Homo sapiens: one gene and its partner. The protein of the gene in region 1 interacts with the protein of each later gene in a pairwise test. Each region holds a gene or a part of one and is shown on either strand. Other genes may lie near its edges. The genes, in order: CFAP141 and NME7.

Region 1 (2,375 bases):
TAAAGTGAACCCTTGTAAGTAAAGTTGTCTATGGCCTTCATATGATGCACATGGTCAATCAGTACTTTTCAGTATTTTTCAGAATTTTGAGTGCCTTTATTTTGACTGCTCTTTCCAGCCCCCTACAAATCCCACCACTCCTTATTTCCTTACAACTGTAACATTACCTGCCTGACCCCTGGAGACATTTAAGTTTGGAATCCTCTCTCTTGGCATAGGTGGGAATTCAGGCCCAGTGGAAAGAGACTTGTCCAAAGTTTCACAATAACTAGCTGACTCAAAACCCAAAATGCAGGCCTCCTCACTCAAGCACTACGGTGTCTGTAGATTAATAGCCACATTCAGAACAATTTGTCCAAATATAAATAAAAGATAAGTGAAAGTGATATCTGAGAGATGGCAAGTGAAATCCAGGAGGTTAAGATTACAGTAGCTGAAAAATAAGCACTTTTGAAACAAATCAAGATTTAGACATGAAAGAATGAGCCCAGTGGTCTAAGTTTGAGCCTTTAGGAAGTAAATTTATTTGTTATACCAAATCAGGATTCTCAACTCTCATTGTCCACCCCTCCCCACCCCTGCCCCCTTACATCAACATAGTAAATCCCACTATGACCACAAGGCGTCACTCTTGTTGTTACTGTTGTTTCATAGATTGTTTCCCAAATAGCGGCAAAGGATTAACGAGAGAGTGGAGAAGTGAGAGTGGAAGTGCTGTCTTAAGTCCCTGACAGATAGCAAGATCCAGGTATGTTTTGGGAAGGAGGTTCAAGGTGGTAGAGGTTCTAGAAGGCTAGGTTAGCAGGCATGTTGAGAATGGAAGAGCAGTGTTTTGGATGCCATCAGAATCTCTCTACATAAAAAGCTTTGCCCATCTGATTTAGTTCCTGCTGGTACTGCTGATGCTCCTTTTCAAACAGCTGGTGCAGGGCAGCTTGACGGACCTGGTGGAGAGGGCAGAATAGAGTGTGTTGTTTGCCTCTGTTTACCACCCTTTCTTATTCTTTCTTCCTAGTTGTTTTCCCATTATTTGTGTTCTCTTGGAGCTGGACTTAGCTGTGACATAAAGCTGGGTGGTAGCAGAGAGGCTGAACCAGCAGAGGGAAGCCTATCCAATTTTTTTCTCCACAGGCAAAGCCCTATGTTCAGCAAATATTTGCTGAGAACAGACCATGAAACAGGAACTCTACTAAGTAACTGGGATACAAAGATGGTTACATGGCACCAAGTGGGGACCCCGGGAGAGAGAGAGGTACCGAGAGGCAAGTGATACGCACTAAGAGGCAGTTTTTTTTGTTTTTTGTTTTTTTGAGACCAAGTCTTACGTTGTAGCCCAGGCTGGAGTGCAGTGGCACAATTTCAGCTCACTGCAACCTCTGCCCTCGTTTCAAGTGATTCTCGTGCCTCGGCCTCCCAAGTAGCTGGGATTATAGGCAAGTGCCACCATGCCCGGCCAATTTTTGTGTTTTTAGTAGAGAGGTGGTTTTGGCATGTTGGTCAAGCTGGTCTTGAACTCCTGGGCTCAAGCGATCTGCCCGTCTTGGCCCCCCAAAGTGCTGGGATTACAGGCCTGAGCCACCACACCCGATCTAAGAGGCAGTTTTGAGTCTCACCAAGATGAAAGGAGCAGGAACTAGAGTATACTTTGGGACTTTAACATGTGCCTGCCGCCTGTAAGGTGGATGCAAAGAATCACTTAATGAAAAAGAGTTTTGGCAATGGAGTTAGAGTTGTGTTGCTCTGGTGTAATGCTGAAAACCTAGAGGCAAACAAGATAAATGTGCAATGACACACACTAAGAGCTTGGAAAACTCAATGGGCAAAGGCACACAGCAGTAGTGAATGAGACTTCAGGTTGCCCTGCTAGAACTCACCATTAGTAGTTGCTTTTTGGCCAGTGCCAATTCCTGTACCATGGTGTCCTGCATCCTTAGGGTGGCATACGGGTTTCTTCTCTGGCCCAATGCCATTTGCCACAGACAGTGAGTATGTGAATTTCGCCACCTGCTCCAGGTACAGAGGTGGGGGTTGAATGGGTGGGTTAGAGTTAGGAGTAGAGACAAAAAACCCATAGAGTGAGGCTGTTTCTTTTTTCTTTTTCTTTTCTTTTTTTTTGAGACAGAGTTTCACTCTTGTTGCCCAGGCTGGTGTACAGTGGTGCAATCTTGGCTCACTGCAACCTCTGCCTCCCAGGTTCAAGTGATTCTCCTGCCTTAGCTTCCCAAGTAGCTGGGATTACAGGTGCCTGGCACCATGCCCAGCTAATTTTTTGTATTTTTAGTAGAGATAGGGTTTCACCATATTGGTCAGGCTGGTCTCGAACTCCTGACCTCAGGTGATCCACCTGCCTCGGCTTCCCAGAGTGCTGGGATTAT
Region 2 (4,031 bases), about 15 Mb from region 1:
AATATTTTAATGCTCTTCTAGTTCTGTTAAATGTTTTATATCAAAGGAAAGCATTTCTATCACTGGTGACTTAGGGTGGATTTATGCTGCTGCTCTAGTAGTAGAGAAAACCTTTGACATCTTGCCTACTATCAAACAGTGATTCAGTGTGTCTCCTTTGTGAACTGGTAACCTGATCATGATCAACGTAAGTTTTCTCCAATTAAAACACTTCTCATCCTGTTTCTTGTTCCCAAGACTTAAATTACTGAGGCTCCTAAATGTTTGAATTATTGAATTCATGTAAGAATACCAGTTTATGGCTAGTAGATATTAAAAAGAAGATATAATTTGAGATATTTCCTTTTGATTCAGACGTAACACTGTGCTTTCAAGCTTAACATCCTATTATTTTCCTATATATAGCTAGTGTTTATGAAAGTTTCTCTACTCCTTATTTTTAAATCCATATAAATAAAGCATTTATTGGATTTATACTGAGGTTGAATTAAAGAAGTGTAAGTTTATTTTTAGCATCGTGAGAAGTGTCTCACTTAAGGTAGTTTTTAATCTGGTTGTGTTTGCAATGAAACAATATTAGACAGTTTTATAATTGATTTCTTTCTTTTTCCTACCATTTCATCAGCAAGTCCCTTCAGCTCTTTCAAAATAAACCCTGAATCTGATCATTGTGGTCTGAATCACTATTATATTTTGCCAGAACTGCTACAATAGCCTCCAAATTCTTTTTTCCTCTTTTCTTACACTCAATTAATGAAAATTTTACCTTACCCAAGTAAAATCAGCTATGCCCAGTGATCTTTTAAAGACAAATCAGATTAACATTCACCTGCTGAAAACCCTTCAGTGAATTTCTGTCTCTTCTAGAATAAAATCTAAAGTCTTTATTGTGGCCTCCAATGCTCTATCTAGTCTGGCCCATATCTATCTCTAACTGTATCTTTGATCAATCTCTATCTTAATCATTGTGTTCCAGGCACACTAACCATCTCGCTATTCCTTGAATAGCATATTTCTGTCTGGAATGGTCAACTAACAGCAAAGAGGACAGTGTGGTTGGATAGGAATGAGAGAGGGAGGAAGAGGGTGATGAGGTTACAGAGGTAATTAGGGGAAAGATTATATGGTCTTATAGGCCGTAGTAGTACTTTTAGATTTTTCTCTGAAAAAATAGAGAGCCATTTTAGGGTTTTGAACAAAGGACTGATATCTTCCACTTGCCATTTAAAAGGATCATTCTGGCTGTTGCATTAAGAATGACTATAGAGGCTGGGAGTGGTGGCTCACACCTGTAATCCCAGCACTTTGGGAGGCCAAGGCGGGCAGATCATTTGAGGCCAGGAGTTCGAGACCAGCCTGGCCAATATGGTAAAACCCTGTTTCTACTAAAAATACAAAAATTAGCTGGGTGTGGTGGCGCCCACCTGTAATCCCAGCTACTCCAGAGGCTAAGGTGGGAGAATTGCTTGAACCAGGGAGGTGGAGGTTGCAGTGAACTGAGATCATGCCACTGTGCTCTAGCCTGGGTGACAGAGTGAGACTCCATCTCGGGGGAAAAAAAAAAGAATGACTATAGAGGGCAAAAACAGCAACAGGGAGCCTAATCAGGAGTCTGTTGGAATAACCCAGTGAGATGATGGCTTGGACCTGGGTGGTAATAATGAAAGAAGTATACAAATATATTTTAAAATATATATTAACGGTTGAAGGTCAAATAAACAAGATTTTCTGCTAGATTGAATGTAGAGTATGAGAAAAAGATACCAAGTATTACTCCAAAGTTCTTAGCCTGATTATCAGAAGGATAGAATTTACGTAAACTGAAATGAGGAAAACTGTGGCTAGAGTCAGAATGAATGGACAATCAGGAGTTAACGTTTTGGACATTTATAAACTTAACCTGTTTGTTAGTTTTCCAATTAGACTGATGAAAAAAATTAGTGTGACAGCTTAGAGTTATCAGCACATAAATGGTATTTAAAGCCGGGAGACTGGTTGAGATTACCAAGGAGAAGGTATAGATAGAGAAGTAAAGAGGACCAAAGATGAAGCTACATCTTGATAAAAGGTAAGGAGAAGAAGGCAGCAAAGGAGGTTGAAGAGGAGCCACCAGAGAGGTAAGAGGAAAAACTGAGAGATAATTATGTCCTGGAGGCCAAGTGAATCAAATATTCTAAAATGAGAGAATGACCAGTGGTGTCAAATAAGGCAAGTAAGAAGAGGACTAAGAATGGATTGTTAAATTTTGCAATGTGGATATCATTGGTGAACTTTGTAAGGTGAATGTTGATGGGGAGGTGGAGGCAAAACCCTGTGTGGAGTAGACTTAAAAGAAAATTGTGGGACGGGAATTGTAGTTAGTGAATATAGACAACTTTTTTTTTGAGGAGTTTTTTTGAGGAGTTTTCCTGCAAAGAGATGAGGTGGTAGCTGTCAAGAAAAGTAGTATCAATTTTTTTTAAGAGGAGAGGTATTGGGTAAAAAATTGATGATGTAGGAAAAAGAGGAAGACTTGTTGGAGCAATTTCATTAATTAGGCAAAAGGAAATGGAAATTAGAACCCAGGTGGAGAGATTAGGCAGGTGTGCCTCTCAGGTACTCGTCTATAGCAACAGATGGGAAGGGAGAATATGTGAACACAGATGCTGATTCTTAAGTAGGAAGCAAGATCAAAACAGCTGAAAGTGAGGATGAGGTATAAGGTATTGGTTGGTCTGAAGGGAGAGAAGAATATGTGAAATGGTGATCTGGAAAAGGAATAGATCAGGGAAATGTGGTGTGTGATTGCTATACTGAATTAATGGCCCATGTAGTGTTCATGGCCATGAACTATGAGTGTGGTTCTCCAGCCTGTTCAACTGCATGGCTGAAGGTAAGGAGTAGGTGGAGAGCTGGCTTTTAACCATGGCTGTGGTTTTGTGAAACAAATGTGACGGAAGTGTTAAGGAAGTTAAAGATACATGCAAGAGAGCAATTATAGTCTTTGACCATATCTTAGTAGTAGACATTTATTGTAAATGTGGTATTGTTTTGTATAGTTAAATTTCCAATCATATTTTAAAGCATTATAAAAATAATAAACATATCTAATTAATGAAGGAAATAATTGAGGCTGAACTGAAAGTCACTACCATGTTTACTGATATTTCCTGCCTATTTCACCCTATTACCACCTTATGCCATCCATTTCTTTTTTATTTCTACTAGATTATTTAATAAATTTGAGCATAAATATACTTGTTAGATTTTAGCATATCTTGTAGTGGAGCAACTTTTGTTAAGTTAGCTACTGTCTCAGTCCATTTTGTGTTGCTGTGAAGGAATACCTGAGGCTGGGTCATTTATAAAGGAAAAAGGTTTATTTGGCTCATAGTCCTGATGGCTGGGACATCAAGATTGGGCATCTGCATCTCGTGAGGGTCTCAGGCAGCTTCCACTGCCTGAGGTGGAAGGTAAAAGGGAGCCTGCGTGTGCACAGATCACATGGTAAGAGAAGAAGCAAGCCACCGGGAGAGGTGTCAGGCTGTTTTTAACAACCAGCTTTCAGAGGAACTAATAGAGGGAAAATTCGCTCACCTTGGAGGGAGGGCATTAATCTATTCATGGGATTTACCCCTACTATCCAAACCTCCCATTAGGCCCTATCTCCAACATTGGGGATCAAATTTCAACGTGAGATTTGGAAGGAACAAACATCCAATCCAGAGCAGCTACCATTGCCATTTCACCTAAAGAAATGTCTTAAACATATTCGTTTATATTTTGTGCATTTAATTTTTTTAACCTCTTTCTGCCATTAGTTCCTGAAATATCCTATTATTTGTATGAACCCTTTAGGATATATATTTTTTTACCCTTGTCTGGGGAAGAGTGAGTGTTGTTGACATTATGTTAGGTGGCTCTAGGAATTAAGGAAAAATATTGTAGCTGGAAAATGAGCTTATGTGAAGAAGCAAAGACCACAGGTCTTAAAAAATTGAAAAACATCACAGCCCCAAACTTATGCAGCCCCAAACAGCCTCTTCTTTACC

The links.
Region 2: the proteins of CFAP141 (region 1) and NME7 interact in binary tests that used the Homo sapiens proteins (3 or more experiments, as listed by UniProt).

Annotation. Positions count from the first base shown.
Region 1 is NC_000001.11:154,198,585-154,200,959, forward strand, and holds the end of CFAP141 (cilia- and flagella-associated protein 141), read right to left. Parts: intron 2,005-2,375; coding exon 1,875-2,004; intron 945-1,874; coding exon 843-944; 3' UTR 501-842; downstream 1-500. UniProt on the Homo sapiens protein: Microtubule inner protein (MIP) part of the dynein-decorated doublet microtubules (DMTs) in cilia axoneme, which is required for motile cilia beating.
Region 2 is NC_000001.11:169,294,510-169,298,540, reverse strand, and holds part of NME7 (nucleoside diphosphate kinase homolog 7), read left to right. Parts: intron 1-4,031. UniProt on the Homo sapiens protein: Possesses an intrinsic kinase activity. Displays 3'-5' exonuclease activity with a preference for single-stranded DNA. Does not seem to have nucleoside diphosphate kinase activity.